Linked DNA regions of Homo sapiens: regions 2, 3 and 4 are each linked to region 1. Evidence: fine-mapped expression QTL. A gene starts in region 1. Each other region holds a variant in brackets. All regions are shown on one strand. Distances are from middle to middle. Region 1 holds the start of MSL3 (MSL complex subunit 3). Region 2 has its middle 25 kb from the start of MSL3. Region 3 has its middle 39 kb from the start of ARHGAP6. Region 4 has its middle 37 kb from the start of MSL3-DT.

The links. PIP is the estimated chance that this variant, and not a neighbour inherited with it, causes the effect. A credible set is the group of variants that fine-mapping cannot tell apart.
Region 2: its variant is the best candidate, but not a certain one, in a credible set for the expression of MSL3 in blood mononuclear cells (TOPMed, PIP 0.72).
Region 3: its variant is the best candidate, but not a certain one, in a credible set for the expression of MSL3 in whole blood (TOPMed, PIP 0.86).
Region 4: its variant is the best candidate, but not a certain one, in a credible set for the expression of MSL3 in whole blood (TOPMed, PIP 0.56).

Annotation. Positions count from the first base shown.
Region 1 is chrX:11,755,742-11,760,890 of GRCh38, reverse strand. It overlaps MSL3 (MSL complex subunit 3), which reads right to left and starts at 2,654. Exons shown (of 13, transcript NM_078629.4): 1 at 2,526-2,654; 2 at 1,016-1,098; 3 at 393-488; 4 at 1-54. The coding sequence starts at 2,627. It overlaps MSL3-DT (MSL3 divergent transcript), which reads left to right and starts at 2,808. Exons shown (of 2, transcript XR_007068393.1): 1 at 2,808-4,139. RefSeq lists an enhancer at 2,207-2,501 and silencers at 2,355-2,734, 2,745-2,894, 2,915-3,114.
Region 2 is chrX:11,780,311-11,785,459 of GRCh38, reverse strand. No RefSeq gene overlaps it. Among named protein-coding and RNA genes, the nearest start is that of MSL3, 25 kb to the right of the region's middle. The variant C/T (reference allele first, on the strand shown) is at 2,709.
Region 3 is chrX:11,702,339-11,707,487 of GRCh38, reverse strand. It overlaps the pseudogene LIMK2P1. Among named protein-coding and RNA genes, the nearest start is that of ARHGAP6, 39 kb to the right of the region's middle. RefSeq lists enhancers at 2,336-2,837, 2,854-3,353. The variant T/C (reference allele first, on the strand shown) is at 3,080.
Region 4 is chrX:11,718,702-11,723,850 of GRCh38, reverse strand. No RefSeq gene overlaps it. Among named protein-coding and RNA genes, the nearest start is that of MSL3-DT, 37 kb to the left of the region's middle. The variant A/G (reference allele first, on the strand shown) is at 3,012.

The DNA of each region.
Region 1 (5,149 bases):
ACAGAGTCCACACCAGGCAACCTGCAGCGCTTCTTCTTTCTTCCTGTGCTCCTCCTGAAAAAGAGTAGCAAACAACTGAAATAAGTTTTGACATTGAACTCGTGAGTCTTGAGATCAAAACAAGATATAATAAACAATGAAATACATTTGAAAAATTATTAAACTTTAGAACATAAATGGTAATTTCCATTTCAGAAAATTATACAATAACCACTCTGAAAACACTGTTATTTAGAATACCATAGGAACACTCTTCCCCTTACACACTTTAAATATTTAAAATTATTTAATAAATGATATTTGTCATTGTATTACTTTTATATCATAAAAATCTAAAACACTAAGAGAAAACACATTGGATAACATTTATATCTTGATTTTTGTATTCTTACAGGCGAGCTACAGCTTTTCTTGCCAATTTACGCTGTAATCTACGATTTTCATCGGTATCACGAAGCACATGATCTTCTGCTGCCCATCTATCCCAGCTAATTGAACAAAAAAGGAAAATTCAGTACTTTAGTTTGATATGAAACAACGACTAAAAGTACCTCAAAGCAATAGAAATGCCCCAGAATTACATTTTTAGAAAACGATTTAAATATTTTAAAATCACAAAGAGGAGGCAAATAAACTGAAAAAGTAACTCATTCAGACACAGAAACAACTGGGGTTTCCAGAATCACCCAGACAGAATCCAAATACAATCGACTTAAAAGTAACTATTCGTCACAATAGGCAAGTTCTGGTAACAAAGTAAAAACAGGAAATGAATCAAACTTCTCTACAAGTGTTTCTAAAACTTAAAGAAGTTTGCAACGCTACAAAGTAAAGACAGGAAATGAAACAAACTTCTCTACAAGTGTTTCAAAAACTTAAAGAAGTTTGCAATGCTACAAAGTAAAAGCAGGAAATGAAACAAACTTCTCTACAAGTGTTTCTGAAACTTAAGTCTGCAATGTTTCTATGCAGCAAAGACAATCAATTTTCAGTCTGGTTTAACAAGTTCACTCACCTTCTGTTCCAACCATTAAAATGGATCAGATATTCTGGGATCTTTCTGCCTTTTTCGTCTTTCCCAACAATAACATCAACAATCTGAAACGAAGAAATATTTCCCACAAATGGCAGAACATACAGAAAATTAGAAGTTAGATCAGGAAAACTAATTCACAGACCCTTTTTTAAAGAAAGCATTCTCTCCTCTTTTAGACCGACAGCCGGGTTGAAATATTTTTCCTTTCATTTTTTTCCCCCAAGTGGACGCCTTCAAAATAGGAAACATCCGTCCAACCACCCCGTGATTGGTCTCTGAGCGTGAGACAGTGTGAGGCTTCTGAAGCCATTGGCCAGCCGATTTGTCACTAAGGAGAGACTCCAGGCTAGATGAAAGCTGCAGCCCTGAGAGCTCTGGGAGTTGTAGTCTCCTGGGCTCCCCTATGTCCAGTGCCAGGATGGCTAGCTGGAGACTCTGGAATCCCTCCCTGTTGTGTCCCTAGAGGGAACAACTAAAACTAATGATGGGGCGTGCCCCCCCCCCTCCGCCCCGAGGAGGCTGGAGGGCGAGGAGAAAGAGGGATAGCAGACGCGGTTAAAAGACAGGAGCAGCAGGGGAGGGAACTGAAGGCAGAATATGCTCATCCCTTTAGGGATGTCCTTTAGCATCTCTAATGGACAGAGCTGTCCAGACATCGCCAAAGACACACCTGGGACTGCCCCTGTCCCTGCCGCCTAAGGCTTCGCCCAGGTGGCCCTAGGAACCCAGGTCTCTGAAATGAAAGCACCTGGGTGCTTTCCTTGGGGATCTGGGAGACCTGGTGCCAACTCCTGCCCGCCACCCAAATCTGAGGAGCTGCAAGATGTGGCTCAGCTCCCGGAGACTTAGGTGGACCGGCCCGGGGCGCGATTCCCATCAACTATGGTCAGACCCACGTAAATCCTTCAGAGTTTGAAAACGTAAATGCTGCAAGGCCCTGGGGTACGAAAACACTGGGCCAACCTTGCCCTCGGGATGGGGTTCACGGCCTACAGGCGGGATGGGGCCTAAACTGGACTAGGGTCCCAGGGACACAACGTCGCAAGTCAGCGGCCAGCGCCGTGTAACTATGAATTAGAACCTGGATCGGACGGCCAGGGCGTCCCACAGGAGCCCACCCGGCACCAGGCCGCACAGAAGGAGACATTTAACGCGAAGACAGAAACCGTATTCGAGAAGCCTCCTCCCTCAGCGGCCACCGTTGCAGTCGGGGGCGCAAACGGTAGCCCCGGTAACGCGACAAAGCATGGGCGAGGCTCCCAACCGCGCGTGCGCCGCCCGGCCTGACGGAAGGAAGTGGAAGCATCCCAGACCCCGCCCCGACTCCCGGGCGTAGCGCCCTGTGAGCGCCCCCTGCCGGCCGCACCGCTCCTCGCAGGCCGAGGAGCCCGGCCGGTCCCTCAGCTCCGCGCGGCCGTCCGCCCCCGCCCCCGCCCCCGGTCCCGGGTCCCCCAGCCCGCGCCTCCTCCCTGTCCCTCCGCGGCGGCACCTTGGCATCGTACAGCACTCGCGCCTTGGTGGGGTCAGGCTCGAAGCACAGCACTTTCTCCCCTGAGTGGAATTTAAATTTCATGCCCTCGCTCGCGCTCATTTGCTCATCGTGGCGGAGGGCGAGGCTCCGGGGCGGGCGGAGCGCGCGCGGTGGGGGAGGGCGGGCGGGGGCGGGGAGGCGGTGCGCCGTGGCCGGGGGGGGCCGGGAATGGCGGAGGCTGCGGCCGCCCCGCCCTCGGCCCCTCCTCCGCCCGCCCCGAGCCGCTGCCGGGACCTCGGAGGCGCCTGGCGCGCGCGCTCCCGCCCGGGCGCGTCCCCGCACGTCCCCGCCGGGGCTCCGGGAGGGGTGCGGGCGGGGAGCGCGACCCCCTGGCCAAGGTCTACCGGCAGGACGTCTCCCGTCGCCCCCATGGGAGAGGGTCCCCGCGGCCTCCAGGCTGCGCCCACGTGCGCGCAGGGTCGTCCGTCGCCCCGAGCGCCCGCTCTCCGGCCCGGGCGTGGGAGGCGCCTAGGGAGAGAGAGAGCCGGTCTGGAGTAGGCACCCGGCGGCCGGGAGGCTGGACGGCGTCTGCCCCCAAGAGCTCCCTGGCCGTGCGCGCCGCGTCAGCCCCCTTGGCAGAGCAGCGCGCCGATGAGTGTGGCCACGCTTGGAGAACGCAGCGCTGGAGCTGGCCCCAGGCGGGCAGTGGCCTCGGGCGAGGGCAGAAGGGCACTCCGGGCTGTGAATAGAACACTTGCTTATCCCTTCAGAGGACAAGCCGGTGGCAGGCCTGGAGCCCCCAGTGACGGGTTGAGCAGTGGGCAGCGAGGCAGATGGGTCCTTAAAGAGTAGCTGACGTCTTCAGTGTCAGCTTCTAGCGTGGCCTGACAGCCCCCAGCATCCCCGGAATGCCCCCCACGGTCTATCTGCTCCAATAGACTAAAAATTCCCTAAATAGAAGCACCCTTGAGGCCGCTATCAATATGGTACCTGCACAGAGTGGATGTTAAGTAAATACTTGATGAGCGAATGACAAGTGATGGGAGACTTGAAGGACAAACTTCCAGGGACAGGAAGGACAGTGCTGGGCTTTTTCTTTTGAGTTTTGGAAAGCCGTTGGGCAGTGTAATTACTGGATTAGGACCGGGCTGGAGACCAGCTTCCAGGCTAATCTCTGCGGACCTGGTGAACTTCCCCTTCTCTGTTCTAGCCTCCAGAAAGTTGCATTTGCTTCCCCTCTGCACGCTTCCTTCACCAGGTTCCTGGTATACATCCTTCACATTTCAGCGTGGGCATGCCAACAGAAAAGCCCTCAGGCTTCCCAAGATGAATCATAAAGCCCTGAGGTGTTCCCTCCCAGGACTCTGCTTAACCCCTTTCTTGCATGTACCACTGTGCTATAGAATGGGTTGTTCATTTGCAAAATGACCTCATTAAGACAGTAAGCTCTTTGAAGCTGGGGGTAGGGGTCTTATCCAATTCATCACGGCGTATTCGTGGCACATAATATGGAATGAATGAACAGATTGATTTAGGAAATAGAACCCACAAAACTCAGTGGCCAATTGGATGTGAAGGAGAGGGAAGGAGGAATCTTGAGAGACTTCCAGGTTTTCTGGCCCAAGGAATTGGGTGAGTAATAGCTGCATCCGCCAGAATAAGGCTATACAGAGGAGTTAAAGGTTGGGGGAAGATGGTCAAATGGCCTTTGGGGTAATACGGTGCAGAAACTAGAACTGGAACCATGATTCCTCTCCAGGTTGTGGTGTATCAGAGATGAGAACAGTAGATGGTGGTGTTCCCCACAAATGGCAGGGGCGGCTTGGAAGCACATGTAATTGCACGTCCTGTGTAAACCGTAACTGAAGTATTCACCTTTTTATTTTTCCTGCCCATGATTGGAGAGAGTTCTGCTGCAGGCTCTACCCTTTCAGGGATAGGATTTTAGATGCTTTCCTTTGTTTCTCCGCATTTCCACCCCTTCTTATGTCATTGAGGAATTCCTCTTTCCCCGTCCCTCTAAAAAGTCCAAGAATGCAAAAGCCTTCAGGAACCTAAAAGTTAAAAAGCCTGCCAATGGCAGCACCCCTTACAGTCCTCCTCCAGATTAGGATCCACTAGAGAGGGCTCCACCCTTAATGCAGGACATCATTTTTCCTCTCGGGTGTAAAGGTTAAGAACATGGCCAGCTCTGCAAACCACTCTCCAGGACCCAGTCCCATGCTTGTCACTTTCTAGCTTGTGACCATGGACAACTGGTTAGTCTCTTTGTAATGCACTTTGTTCATGTTTAAAATGAAGGAAATAGTGGCTCCTACTTCATAGGGTTTTTTAGGAGTCAATGAGTCAATTCAGTGTACATGGCTTTGTGTAGTGCCTGACATATAAGGGCTGGGTAAATATTTGCTCTTGACATTAGGCATTTCTTATCTGTTTCTCCGTGTCCCCCATTCATTCATTCATTCATTCAGCAAATATTTATTGGACCTCCTGTGTGCTGGTTGCTAGACACACAAAGTAGAATACATACATTACCCCTGTCCTCCCAGAGGGCACATTTCAGGAGGGCGGAGCAGCAAGCAATCAAGTTCAAGCTTTATGTGCATACCCTGATAAAGCTGGTGTGGAATAGAGGAGACAGA
Region 2 (5,149 bases), 25 kb before region 1:
TATCGTCTGCAGGTTAACTGGGATTTGTTCACATCTCAGCAAGTTTCCAAGGGAAAGAATGGAAGGGAGTGACTTCTGCCATATTGCCTTGGCTAAAGCAAGTTATAAGACCAGACTTTTCTTTGCCCTTTTCAAGAGCAAAGAAAATAGACCCCACTTCTTTATTAGAGGAACTTCAAACTCACATTTCACAGGTTAGGAAAGGGAGTAGTGGTGGTGGTGGTGTTAGGTGTGTAAAGATTTAGAAACATTTTTAAATCCATCTATCACACCATGGCTTCTTGTGGACCACCAAATTAACTAAGAGTCCCTGATTGGTTATATTTCACATGCTACAGAATATAAAAGACAAGATGAAATATCATATATCAGAAGAAAATCTTACTAGGTTTTCCCTCCAATAGAGTGTTTTCGGTTTTCAGACTTTGTTTTGTATACTGCCCAAGCACGTTTAAACAGCCTTTATCCTCTGACACTAATAGGTGTGTTTCTATGCAGCTCACAAATCATCTCACCCAAAATTATTTTCTGGATACTAATGGACGACTAATAGAGGCTGGTGACCTGAAATTGTCTCAAAAGTCACCTTTACAATAGTGAAGATTGAGCAGTAAATAGAGCCTGCAGGCTGGTGTAATTTACCTTGTGCCAAGCCATATCTCCAAAATGGCTTATTAAATCATCCCACTGAGAGTTGTAAATCTAAGTGGGAAAAGTACAAATCAATAGAAAAACATAGTCAAGCACTTTACTACCTATGATTTTCATGATCCTCTGGAAGGATGAAGATTGATGTTGCAAAGAAATTCCAAAACATGGAAGACTTGTAAAGATTAACTGGCTCTGGTTTGCTTTAGTCTTAACAATTCATTTTATTCTTGCTGTCACTAACCTCTGTGAATTAACCTTTTTTGCTTATATCACAGTATCAGTATATACTTATTCCTTATGCCCTATCTTGCTAAGCAGGAGAATCAGAAAGCCAAAAAGTTTGAAGATCTGTCAACCCCATATTTGCTTACAAAGGAAGCTGTATAAAGGCACAGGTTTTCTGACCTTCAGAGGAGGTATGAACTCAGAGGAATGACAAGAGGAACCTTGGCCTGTTTTAAGCAGTGATGCTTGAAAGAAGCCTCACTGGAGTATTGGAATAAGTAGCCTTTCAGCTCTCAAAAATGGGTTTTCATAGTGTATTTTCCTTGAGTTTTAGGCACAGCCAATTTTTAGAGACCCCTTTCTAAAAAGTGAGATATAATTCCCTGTTTTAATCTATTCTCACATTGCTATAAAGAAATACCTGAAACTGTAATTTATAAAGAAAAGAAGTTTATTTGGCTCATGGTTCTGTAGTCTGTACAGGAAGCATAACACCTTCTGTTTCTGGAGAGGCCTCAGGAAGCTTTCAATCATGGCAGAAGGCAAAGGGGGAGCAGGCTTCTTACATGGTAGGAGCAGGAGCAAGAGAGAGAGGTGGGAGGTGCTACACACTTTTAAACAACCAGATCTTACGATAACTCACTCACTATCACAAGATCAGCACCAGGAGAGTGGTTCTAAACCATTCATGAAGGATGACCCCCATGATCCAATTACCTCCCATCAGGCCCCGCCTCCAACATTGGGGATTACAGTTCAACATGAGATTAGGCAAGGACACAAATCCAAACCATATCATTCACATACCATAAAATTTACCCTTTAAATGCTGACAATTCGGTGGTTTTTAGTATATTCAGAGTGGTATAATGATCACTACTGATTCCAAAAATATCCATCACCCCCCAAAAAAAGCTCATATCTATTAGCAGTTAGTCTCAATTCCCTCCTCTCCCTATCCTCTGACAACCACTAATCTACTTTCTAGCCCCATGGATTTGCCTATTCTGAACATTTCATGTAAGTGGAATCATACAATATGAGGCCCTTGTTTCTGGCTTCTCTGGGATCCTTTTTGATGAATGAAAGAGCACATGAACCTGATGTTCCTGACTCTCAGAGTGTCCTTGCTCTTTCTCTGCCTGCCTGGAGGCCTGTTTCAGCCTGGCAACCCATTTCCACAGAAGCTCAAAAGCACAAATCCAGCTCCTCAAGCATTAAGCGAATGTCTGACATTTGAGCAGCAATGAAGGGCAGGCTCACAAAGCACATCACCCAGCAAAAATGCCCCTGCCCCGTTTTCAATACTTCTCTTTTTTCTGAAACAAATCCTTCTTTACTTTTCTTTTCCTTTCCTCCTCAGAAATCTCTGCCACCCCCTTGAGCCACAGCTTAACCTCCTCCCCAGATGCTTCTCCAAACTCTTCCTTTTGGTATCTCACTTAACAGCCAGAAGCACGGGCTCATCGTGGGCGAGACCACACCACACCTTGCCCCCCAAGGGCCTCCTGGGGGCACTCCATTTGTCTCATCACACACACATTCCAGAACAGGACCCCCTTCAGGTTTTGTGGGGCCTCAAGTTTCTGTAATCGTGGTGGCCCTCTTTGAGAAATAAAGCACACAATTATGCCTACAAAACTGAGGGCTTGGAATAGGTGCACACAAGCAAATGAGGAGCCCTGAAGTTTCAGCTTCACCAGCTCCACGGTCATTCTACCTCTGCTCCAAAGCCAACACCATGGATTGTTGGAACATCTGAGTAATGCAAATGTTTCCTGGCCTCACAGGCCAGGACTCTGTGATAGGCAGAATAACAGCCACCAAAAACA[C/T]CCACATCCAAATCCCCAGGATCTGTGAATATGTTACCTCACATGGCAAAAAGAACTTTGCAGATGTGATTAAGACTAAGGACCTAGAGATGAGGACATTATCTGCATGGGCCCAATTTAATCATAGGAGTCTTCATCAGCAGAGATGCTTTCCTGGCTGTGGTCAGAGAATCAAAGAAATGGCAGCGTGAGAAGGACTCAGCCAAAACTTGCTGGCTTTGAAGATGGAGAAAGAAGCTACTAGCCAAGGAATGCAGGAAGCCTCGAGAAGCTTGAAATGGCAAGGAAACATAGTCTCCCCTAGGGCCTCCAGAAGAAACACAGCCCTCTGACACTTTGATCTTCACCTAATGAGACCTGTATTATATTTCTGATGCCCAGAACTGTATGCTAATAAATGTGTGTTGTCTCAAGTCACTAAATTTGTGATTATCTGTTACAGCAGCAGTAGAAAATTAATATGGACTCCAAAGTGTTGAAAGTGTTGTAATCTGAGCATAAGTGAAAAAGACGCTTATCTTCCTACAAACCTGCCCTAACAGGAACCAAACCCTTAAAACAGGTCCCTCTGTTTATCTGGGAGTCATCACAAACCAGTTGGCTAGCTGTGGTCACCATGCAGTCTGCCAAGTTCTTCCTCCCTAACTGCCTTAGGAGATCCTTGGAAGAGGAGGAGGAGGTGAGGGAGCAGAAAGGGAGTAAGTAGGAGGATAGTGAAGAGCTGATTTGAAAGCTCCCTGAAAGAGACTTGCCTCCCTCCACATGATGATAGGGCCGTGGCGAGAGTATCAGTGCTGCATGCACCTTGGGCTACCTCCAGATGGCCCCAAGCTTTAGTTCTCATGGAGTCAGAGAAGTGTGAAGCTTGTGTCCCCTCTGTCATCTGGGCCCCAGACAGCTCTGTTCAAGTCTACAAGTACTCTTGTGAGGTCTCCCCAGCATCTGGCCTTCTGCCTTTGCCCAGAGGTGCAGGAAGTCCCTTAGGAAACAATTGCTTGGTTTTAGGCCCTCAGGCTTCTATTGCTAGGGACTCGAGCCCTTCATGGCAGCAGACAGCTCCTCCTCTCCATCCTCCTCCTCCCTCTCTTCTGCACTGGCCTCCCCAAAAGCCCCTCCTCCCAAAAACCAGCTGGAAATGATCTCCTGCATTTCAACACATGAGCAAGCCCATGAGGTGGCTGTCCAGGCCAGCAGCCTTTGGGCCCTGCTTGGTCAACCAAAAGGCTTTGGAAACTGGAGGAGGGCACAGCAGAGAGAATTAATTCTTACTCCCTGCCACATTTAGACTCCCATATGAGTACATAGCTTTTTTGTCTTTTTCATGCTTTTTGCTGTGGACAGGTCTCCTTGCCGCAAGCCAAGTAAAGAATCTGCCACAGAGTTATACAGCAGCAAGCCCAGACATGATATAGAAACTCAGCCCTCAAGACCTAGTGTTAAGGGCCACCTGCACCTGGGTGTGCTTTCTTCTGTCCCATTGGGGTCCATGGTGTTGAATACACCACACTTGAGAGGCCACCAGAGTTTGAAGGCTGTTGTGACTGGCGTGTTTTGAAGCTAGTGCTTGGAAAGGTGGCCAGGAACACACTGAAGGGTCCCTGAGAGCCCAAAGTGCTGGAAGAGACTCTGGCTCTTGACTTGGTTTTTTGGGGAATAAAGTCTAAGTCCAAAGTTGTTTGTAATCAGCACTTTAAAGATATTTGTCAGCCCTGTCTTTTGCATCTGGGGTTGCTGATAAGAAATCCCATGTTCTGGCCTAGCACGGTGGCTCACACCTGTAATCTCAGCATGTTGGGAGGCCAAGGCAGGCGGATCACTTGAGGTCAGGAGTTCGAGACCAGCCTGGCCAACATGGTGAAACCCCCATCTCTACTAAAATACAAAAATTAGCCAGGCATGGTGGCAGGCCTGTAATACCAGCTACTCGGGAAGCTGAGGCAGGAAAATCACTTGAACTCAGTTCGAGGCCAACCTGGACAACATAGCAAGCCCTCATCTCCACAAAAAATTTTAAAAAGAAATTAGCCTGATGTTGTGGTGCACAGGTGTAGTCCCAGCTACTCAGGAGGCTGAGGTGGGAGGATCACTTGAGCTGGGGAGATGATGGCTGCAGTGTCACGCCACGGCTCTCCAGCCTGGGTGACAGAGCAAGACTGTCAGAAAGAAAGAGAGAGAGAGACAGAGGGGAAGGAAGGAAGGAGGGAAGGAAGGAAGGAAGGAAGAAGGAAGGAAGGAGGGAAGGAAAGAAGGAAAGAAGAAATCCCATGTTCTACTCAGTCCATACTATCTTCCCCGGTGACCTTAGCCAATCTCAGAATTTACCACCTATGTTCTGGTGACTTCACAGACTATATTTCCCACCCAGTTCTTCCTCCTGAGGTACAACTTCCATCTCATATAAGTCTCAAAACATTCTGTCTCCTCTCCTCATCCCAATTTCA
Region 3 (5,149 bases), 53 kb after region 1:
TTTGACTCGGAAAGGGAACTCCCTGACCCCTTGCGCTTCCCAGGTGAGGCAATGCCTCGCCCTGCTTCGGCTCGCGCACGGTGCGCACACACACTCGCCTGCGCCCACTGTCTGGCACTCCCTAGTGAGATGAACCCGGTACCTCAGATGGAAATGCAGAAATCACCGTCTTCTGCGTCGCTCACGCTGGGAGCTGTAGACCGGAGCTGTTCCTATTCGGCCATCTTGGCTCCTCCCCCCCTTATTGTTATTTTTGAATAGTTCTTTGATTTACTTGGTTCAAAAGGCAAAATACACGAAACATTATTCCTCAAGAAGTTTTACTCCTATGAATATTTATTCTTATTTTCCACCTTTTCTTTACAAAAGGTGGTGTTCTATATATATAAATATACACACACATTGTTCAGTGCCTTGGATTTTTCACTCAACAATATTACCTGGACATCTTCCCACATTGGAACTTAAGAGAACTTCTTAGTCCTTGGATTTGCAGTTGCATGGTATTCCACTAGTGGAAGTAAGACAACTTATCGAATCAGTCCCCTGAATCATCTGATTTTTAAAATATGAAGATATAATTAAATAGAATTTTGAAATGTCAGTGGATAAAGAATACACACACAACTCACATGTACATCTGGTTTGAAATATTTTGGCTTATGGAATGATCAGAGAAAAGAAATTTGTTACTTATAGGCTCCAAGATAATAATTTATAAAAGAAATCCTGTAAAAACTAATTTTGAATCAAAATGCATAGCAGTTATAGAAAAGAAGAAAATCAATGTGCATAGAGCCATTATGTTCTAATATTTTAAACAAGGATATGTTTCTTATTAGAGTTTATTAAAGCTCGAATTATGTAATGGTGGCTATTCTGTAACTTTACGTTTAAAAGTAAAATAACTAAAGCCTTTTGTGTTAGCAAATTAATTTTTTGAAATTTTATTCATTTATCCTGGGTTGATGTCAAGATTTCAAAAACAAAAGCAACATACTTTCATTGATTGTAGCAAAGCAGAAACATAATTAAATATCAGATTAAAGCTCAAACCATGAAAAATGATCTAATGTTTTCCTTTCACATTTATTAGGAAAACAATCAAAACCCTTTTCTAATATTAAAGTTATTTTTTGAAGTCTTACTCAAAGGAATCCTAGATTAATCATAGATTTAAAAATCCGCCCATTCGTGCCTGGGGTTGAGGTCCTCCCTCGCCTAGGCAGAGGTGGGAGCTTATTGGTGCTGCTGCGGCCCTGCTTCCTCCTCCCCGTTTCTATGCTCCTGGGACCATGTCTGCACTGGTGGGTGCTAGAGCCAGGAGAGACTTTTGAGATAATGTACAATCTCCTCATTTTACATATGAAGAAACTGGGGCTTAGGGAAGAAAATGAAGTTGTCCAGGTCACTCAACTAGTGGTAATGCCAGGACCAAGGTGAAGATGCCTGGAGGTGTCAGGGCTGTGGGGACCACATAAAGCACCTCAAGTGAGCATGTGCACAACTTCAGTAAACACACTGTGCATGCAGCCCCTCCCAAGTGTTAGCAGCCCACTGCGCATGCGGACAGCCCACCCCAAGGGACGAATCAGGGGAGACAAGATGCAGACCCCAGAAGAATGCCAACATGTAAAACCCCAAGTCAAAGGTCAAACTGCACACTTGATCTCTGAAGTCTCCTGCTTGGCCCTCTTCCAAGTGTGCTTTACTTCCTTTCATTCCTGCTCTAAAGCTTTTTAATAAACTTTCATTCCTGCTCTGAAACTTGCCTTGGTCTCTCACTCTCTCTTATGCCCCTCAGTCGAATTCTTTCTTCTGAGGAGGAAGAATTGAGGTTGCTGCAGACCCATGCAGATTTGCTGCTGCTAATAGGGAGTTCAAGTACCATCCAGAATGCTTTGCCTGTGTGAGCTATAAGGTGACCATTGAGGATGGGGATGCATACGCCCTGGTGCTGCGTGTCACCCTATACTGTGGAAAGTGCCACAAATGAGGTGGTGCTGGCACCCATATTTGAGATACTCTCCACAGAGTCCATTCAGGACCAGCTGCCCTACTCTGTCATGCTCATGTCCATGCTGGCCATCACAGAGGGCAGGCGGAGCTTCTCCGTGTCCGTGGAGAATGCCTGCTCCAACTATGTTACCACCGTGCAAGTAAAAGAGGTCAACCAGATGCACATCAGTCCCAACAGCTGCAATGCCATCCACCCCAGGGACCACATCCTGGAGATCAGTGGAACCCCCACCCACACACTCCAAGTAGAGGAGTTGGAGGATGCAATTAGCCAGATGAGCCAGACACTTCTGCTGTTGATTGAACATGACCCTGTCTCCCGGTCCCCAGCCCAGCTGCGGCTGGATGCCTGGCTCTCTCCCCACACACAGAATGCTGGACACCCTCACGCCCTCAGCACCCTGGACACCAAGGATAATCTGGAGGGGACACTGAGAAGATGCTCCCTAAGACTCAGTAACAGCATCTCCAAGTCCCCTAGCCCTAGCTCTCCAAAGGAGCCCCTGCTGCTCAGCCGTGACATCAGCTGCTGGGAATCCCTTTGTTGTTCCAGCACTTACTCAAAGCAGAACTTCCGGTCCTGTGACCTGATCCACGGGGAGGTCCTGGGGAAGGGCTTCTTTGGGCAGGCTATCAAAGTGACACACAAAGCCACAGGCAAAGTGTTGGTCATGAAGGAATTAATGCGATGTGATGAGGAGAACCAGAAGACTTTTCTGACTGAAGTGAAAGTGACGTGAAGCCTGGACCACCCCAATGTGCTCAAGTTCATTGGCGTGCTGTACAAGGACAAGAAGCTGAACCTGCTGAGAGGACATTGAGGGGGGCATGCTGAAGGACCTTCTGCAAAGTGTGGACCCATTCCCCTGGCAGCAGGAAGTCAGCTTGGCCAAAGGCATTGCCTCCAGAATGGCCACCACCAAGAAATGTACTTTGCACAAGAACAACTTCAAGAAGTGCTACATGGTGGTGGGAAACCTCTACTGGATGATACCTGAGATGCTGAATGGAAAGAGCTATGACGAAATGTGGATGTATTCTCTTTTGGGATCGTTCTCTG[T/C]GAGACCATTGGGCAGGTGTATGCAGATCCCGATTTCCTTCCCCAAACACTGGACTTTGGCCTCAGCATGATGCTTTTCTGGGAGAAGTCTGTCCCCACAGACTGCCCTCCAACCTTCTTCCCCCTGGCCATGATCTACTGCAGACTGGAGCCCGAGAGCAGACTGGCATTCTCAAAACTGGAGGACTCTCTGTACCTGGGGGAGCTGGGCATCCCGCCGCCTGTAGGGCTGGAGGAGTTGGACCACACTGTGAGCATGCAGTACGGCCTGATCCAAGACTCACCCCACTAGCCCTGGCCCAGCCCCCTGCAGGGGGGTGTTCCACAGCCAGCATTGCTCCTCTGTTCTCCATCCCTGCTGTGAGCAGGGTTTTTCGGGCTTCCCGTGGATTGGCAGCTTGTTTAGAAGCAGAACAAGCCGGCAGGGTGCGGTGGCTCACGCCTGTAAGCCATCACTTTGGGAGGCCGAGGCAGGCGGATCACCTGAGTTCAGGTGTTGGGGACCACCCTGACCAATATGGAGAAACCCCATCTCTACTAGAAATACAAAAAAATAGCTGGGTGTGGCGGCACATGCCTGTAATCCCAGCTACTCAGGAGGCTGAAGCAGGAGAATTGCTTGAACCCGGGAGGTGGAGGTTGCAGTGAGCCGAGATCGTGCCATTGTACTCCAGTCTGGGCAACAAGAGCAAAACTCCGTCTCAAAACGCAAACAAAAAAGAAGCAGAACAAGCCATCTCTTCTATCTCCCCAGGAGACGAATGGATGCAGCACCAGGAAAATGTATCTCCACAGGTTTGAGGGCCTGGTTACTGTCTGCAAATCCAGCACTCACCTGAAAGCTGTGAAGAAGACAAAAAAAAAAGCCCGGCCTTTGGGCCAGGAGGAAATCTGTTACTCGGATCCACCCAGGAGCTTCTAGGTCACGCTGATTAGTGTAATCTCTTACAATAATCAGCGTGACCTGGACTTGCTAGGCAGGATCCCAGGGTGAACCTGCCTGTGAACTCTGAAGTCTATAGTCCAGCTGGGTGCAGGAGGGCAAGTGGGAGTGTGGATGAAGGAAAGAATGGTGGCCAGAAGAAACTCAAAGGGTGTGAAAAGACAGTGGTGCTCCCCACTTCCACTCTGGGTCCTGCCCTTCCTGGAGCAGAGGTCGAGGGAGTAGGTTTTGAAGAGTTTTGGTGTGTGGCACAACTGGCCAGGAGTCAAGAAAAGGGCTGGCTTCTGTTCACCTGCCAGAGGGTGACTCTAGCCAGCCCAGGGACAACATCAATGTGAGGGGAAGCTTCTACCTCATGTTTTCAAACCTAATTACCGGAGACTGGCTGAGAACTTATGGGCAACAACCTGTCTGTTTGCAACAGTCACCTTCAAGCAGAGGAAGAAGCTGGGGGACTAGAAAGAAAGAGGCCCTGCCCTCTAGAAAGCCCAGATCCTGGCTTTTGTTACTCATGCCCTGGTGGACTCCTCAGTCAGAAGCCTAAGACATTTTGCCTAGAGCTAGATGGGTTCTGGAGGACAGTGTGGCTTGTCACAGGCCTAGGGGCTCAGGCAAGGGAGTGAGAGTGTCAGCAATCTCTTGGCCTTGGCCTTGGCCTTGTGGCAGCCACTGTTCACCCTTCAACATGCCTGGTTTAGGCAGCAGCTTGGGCTAGGAAGAGGTGGTGGCAGAGTCCCAAAGCTGAGATGCTGAGAGATACACCTCCCCAAGCTGGGCCAGCTGACTTCTACCTCCCTCATTGGCTGTCCCACCTCACTAGTTCCTGGCTGCAGCTGCCTGAGCCACAGCTGCCTGAGCCACAGCTGCGGGTACTGGAAAGCTCTGAGGTGACCCTCCACCTAGGCTCCCAGAGCTCCAGGGACTCTTTGGCTCAACTAGATTTGCATCCTCCTAACTGTGAGCTTGCACCATATTTAACAAATTGAGAATAGGTTTGGGGTATTAATGCAATGTGTGGCCGTTGTATTGGAGTGGTGTGTTGCGGGGAGGGGAGTGATCCAGGAAAGTGGTTGTTGTTAATATTATCTTGTCATTACATCTATTGGGTGGTGTGTGAAATATCGTAC
Region 4 (5,149 bases), 37 kb after region 1:
TTAGGTGAGGTGGGCGAGGCTGACCTGGTAGCCTGAATGTTGAAGTTTCTGTAGCTCTTTAAGAAGAGGAAGTCAGGGAAGACATGTCCTAGTGGTCTTTTTTCTTTTATGATCTTCTTGTGGAGCCCTTGTCTTAATTCACTGATTTAAAGCATTACATCATCTGGCAGTCACACCTGTAGTCCCAGCACTTTGGGAGGCCGAGGGGGGCAGATCTCTTGTGCCCAGGGGTTCGAGACCAGGCTGGGCAACATGGCAAATTCCCATCTCTACAAAAATAAAAAAATAAATAAGTAAATAATAAAGCAGTACATCCATTCTGAAAACTAACCTCTCTTTATAAAGTGAAGGGTAAGTGCAAAAACTTCTATATCTCACACATACTGATTCTCTTAAGTGCCTTCTCCTTTCTTTTCCAAGCGTAATCTTCAAAGCAGCTTCCACAACATGGACAAACCCTATAACAGCCTGGTCTGAGGCATTTTTAGGTGATTTTTGTTTGCAGGACCCTAGATTTTCTATCTTAGAACCACTATGACGAACTTATACATGTGCTCAATAAGTGGTTGCTCAATAAGTGATTCTTTCATTAAATGAAAGAATCAAATGAAGAATAAAATTTTCTCTTAAAAGGAACAAAATCCAATTTTTGATGGCTCCATGCACTTTCTGCATCATTTCCTTCAGCAGCATAGAGAATGGAGAAGTGTACAAAACCTCACTTGGTTAAAAACTCCTATGTCTTTATTTCCAGTCTTGTCCTCTCTTTAAGTCTTCAGTTGCCTGCTAGATGTTTCTACATACATGCCAAAGACTACAGCAGAACTAAGCTCACCATCGTCTTCCAACATCTCCTAGAATCATCACCATTTTTCTAGTCAAGCATGCACAAAAACTTGGGGTCCTCTTTACTTGTCTGCTTTTTCTCATCCACTATCTTGCTGGCTTTGTGCTGTATTAACTTAACTCAGCTAAGCCTAGGTTTCACAGCATCCCCTTTGCCATTTGATTCCAGGCAATATTGGCCACCCAGGACATTTTGTGTGCAACTTGGAAATTGGAATTGAAGCAGAAGTCATATATTGTACACTCTGAAGGTTTGAGCAGGGCTTCTGCACATTGTCACTGATCTGCTGACATGAGATCTGCTGACATGAGGCCAGCACCTGCACCACAGCTCCGCCAGCTCCTTCTGATGTCCCCCTCAGCTTCCCCAAGGCCTGGGCCAGGTGTGCAGACAGCTGGCTCTGTTGCGATGGGCATCAGTGTCATGAACGGTGTCAAGCTTTCCTTTCAGATTCCTCATCTTTGTAAATTGCTTCACCAACTCCCACAATTGCATCAGCCTTATCCACTATAAATGCATCCGTTATCCATTCCTCTCTCTTTGTCTACTTCTGCTGCCATAGCAAGATACCTCAAATTGGGTAGCTTAAACAACAGAAATTTATTTCTCACAGTTCTGGAGGCTGGAAATCCAAGATCAGGGTGCCAGCAGGGTCAGGTTCTGGTGAGGGCCCTCTTCCTGGCTTTCGGACAGCCACCTTCTCACTGTGTCCACACGTGGTAGAGGGCAGAGAGTGCAAGTTCTCTGGTGCCCCTTCTTATAAGGACAATCATCCTATCATGAGGCGCACACCCTCATGACCTCATTTAAACCTACTCACCTCCCAAAGATCCCACATCCAAATACCATCGCATTGGGGGTTGGGGCTTCAACATACGAATTTGGGGGGTAACAATTCAATCCATCGCACTCTCCTAGCAGTTTTCTTTCCCTCATTGAACCCTGATGGTTACAGCTCTTGTCATTACTCAGGAAGTCCTACAAGATGTTGCAATTTTGTCTACCTGCTTCTTCTTCTTTTTTTTTTTTTTTTTTTGAGATGGAGTCTTGCTCTGTCGCCTAGGCTGGAGTGCAGTGGCGCGATCTCGGCTCACTGCAAGCTCCACCTCCTGGGTTCATGCCATTCTCCTGCCTCAGCCTCCCGAGTAGCTGGGACTACAGGTGCCTGCCACCACGCCTGGCTAAATTTTTTTGTATTTTTAGTAGAGACGGGGTTTCACCGTGTTAGCCAGGATGGTCTCGATCTCCTGACCTCGTGATCTGCCCGCCTCGGCCTCCCAAAGTACCTGCTTCTTGTTTCAACTGCCTTTGCCACCACTCCAGTTCAGAGCCTCTCCCCTGGATGTGGATCTCTGCAGGAGCTTTTTGGATCAGCCACTACCCCTAGTTTCAGGGGCCACTAATCCATCTCGCTCCTGCTGAATCATTCTGGTCTCAAAAACCTCAGTGTCTCTCTGTCTCACCAAATTCAGTTCAAATGTCTTTGTTTTTCAAGGAATTTCTTTTTTTTAAACCTATACCTTCTTATTTATTTGTTAATACACACATGTGGCAAGTTCCTTGGAATCTCTGTGCCTCAGTTTCCTTAGGCATAAAATGGGACATATTAATGGTGTCCACCCCAGAGGGTTGTTGTGAGTGTTAAATGAGTTAACTTATGTGAAGCATCTAGAAGACTGTCTGTCTGCCTCTTAAAAAGTCCTCTGTAAGAGTTAGCTATTAGTATGAGCCATTATTATTCCCATGGCATAGCCTCTGAACTAGACCATGGATGCTCCAGGCTCTGCTTTCGTGTCTTTTTTGTTTGTTTGTTTGAAACAGGGTCTCACTCTATCCCCCAGGCTGGACTGCAGTGGCATGATGTCAGCTTACTGCGCCTCCCGGTTTCGAGTAATTCTCCTGCCTCAGCCTTCCAAGTAGCTGGGACTACAGGCACGTGCCACCATGCCCAGCTAATTTTTGTATTTTTAGCAGAGATGAGGTTTTGCAACGTTAGCCAGGCTGGTCTGGAACTCCTGACCTCAGGTGATCCACCCAACTCGGCCTCCCAAAATCCTCCCTGGGATTACAGATGTGAGCCACCACACCCGGCCTTTGTGTCTATGCTCATGTTGAGCAACCATGCCACCTCAAAAGATAAAATGACATCTATCAAGAATAAGCA[A/G]TTAAGATAGAGGAAAGACTACTAGAACATACGTTGGGTCTGTGCTGGACTTGTCAGACATACTAACCTGGAAAGTGCAAAGTTCCCTCCTATTGGGCCACACCCCATCCACAGTGCCTTGAAGGAGAATCTGTGACAGCCTGTTCTTAGCATGAGGTAGCCACCTGGGTGGGGGTAGGGTGGCCCAAGAACAAAGAGTGGAGTTTCCATAGCTTGGGGAGACCCCTGAGGTGGCCTGGTGTAAAGGCTTTGCCCAATGCGGTGGTGGAAACTCACTAGGCTGGTGAGACTAGCTCCCAGTGGAATCTGGATAGAAGAATACAGTGTGCATTAGCCAGTCAGAACATGGGGAATCATGGAACACACGGAAGGAAGCAGAGATGTCCATGAGGGAGATGTCAGAGGAGCCATGGAAGACGAGAGGGAAGTGTCCTAAAAGCAGCCTGGGGGCCTAGACAGAAGAACATTTCTGCCCCAATATTGTTTATTGCTTCTTATAATAACTCCTCCTTTTCCAAAGGCCTTCTTAGAACCCCAAGAGGCTAAATCCAGAGGGCCATTTTTGAGGAGTTCAAGAAACAGAGGATGGAGAAAGACACATACACTGAGAGGTAACTGTCTCTCTGAGAGAGTTTGAATGAGGCTGATGGAGTCATGACTAAAGGGCTGTATTTGTCCAACCAGCCCCACTCCCCATTGCCCCACCATCAGCCAGGCTTCCTTTGGCAAATATAAAGTAGAGATATGTAAGAGTCAAAGGTAGGCAGGACACAGGGCCTGGGAAGTGTTGGTGTGACGGTTTTGTCCTCCATGTTGGTACTGGATTGCTGTATTGGTTTCTAAGCGCAGCTGTAACAAGACACTACAGACTGGGTGGCTTTAAAGCAACAGATATTTATTGTCTCACAGTTTTAGAGGCCAGAAGTCTGAGATGAAGGTGTTGGCAGGGCCATGCTCCTTCCGAAGCACCTAGGGGAGACCCCTTCCTTGACTCTTTCAGCCTCTGGTGTTGCTGGCAGTCCTTGGCATTCCTTGGCTTGTAGGGCATCACTCCAATCTCTGCCTCTGTCATCACATGGCTCTCTTCTCACTGTGTCTCTCCCTTTTTTATAGGGACATCAGTCATATTGGATTAAGAGCCCTTCCTACTCCAGTCGACTTCATCTTAACTAGTGACATCTGCAACCACCCTGTTTCCAAATAAGGTCACATTCTGAGGTACTGCAGCTTAGCAATTCAACATATTTTGTTGCGGGACAAAATCCAATCCATAACAATGGCTAAGTTTCTTTTTTTCAAATTATTTTGAGTTATAAAGGTTCATTCATGATGGCAAGATGCAGGATGCCATCTGTCCACTGATAATTGTCTGCCCTTTCGATCATGTGCTGTGGTCATGGTGAGGCAGCTGCCCCACCCAGCATTACCTTTTCCAGCTGCCTTTGCTTCCAGTTGTAACCACATGACTAGTTCTCACCACTGATGTGTGGATAGAGTTGAGGTTTGTCAGTTCAGTTTAAGTCTTCAAAGACACTGGTACCTTTTCTATTCTCTTTTCCTGAGGCAGAGGACTTGAGGCATTAGGGGATAGCAGAACTCCATGGAGGATAACTGCCTGCCCAGTGACCGAAAATATTCAAATTGTTTTTTTATGGAAGTGAGAATTAAGCTCCTGTCTTGTTTAATTTAGCCATTGAACTTAAGTGGTTTACTTGTTATAGCCACCCGCAGCAACCTGTTTCATTCAAAAGACCCAATTGTTTTTCCTTTCATCATTTTCTCACAGAAGTTGATATTCTGCTAAATCCTCCTTTAAATTCCAATATGATTTTAAACTAATCGTGAAGGAAAGCAAAAACATATTATATCATCCTAACTTTGGACAAGCTATAGGGATAGACAGATATTATATACCATATTTCCTACGAAGTAAAAAGTCCTTACGTAGTACAGATATATCAGTTATATTAGTAACTTCCTTTTGAAAAACTAATTTTTTGCTTAATTTTCTATTGCTATTGATAATGCCGTAACCCATGGTCTTTATACTACACAAATAAGGAGAAGCTAAGGGTGATAGAGGATGTAATGTGTTCTTCTTGGGTCACTTTTTCATTTATCATTCAAATATCATGCAG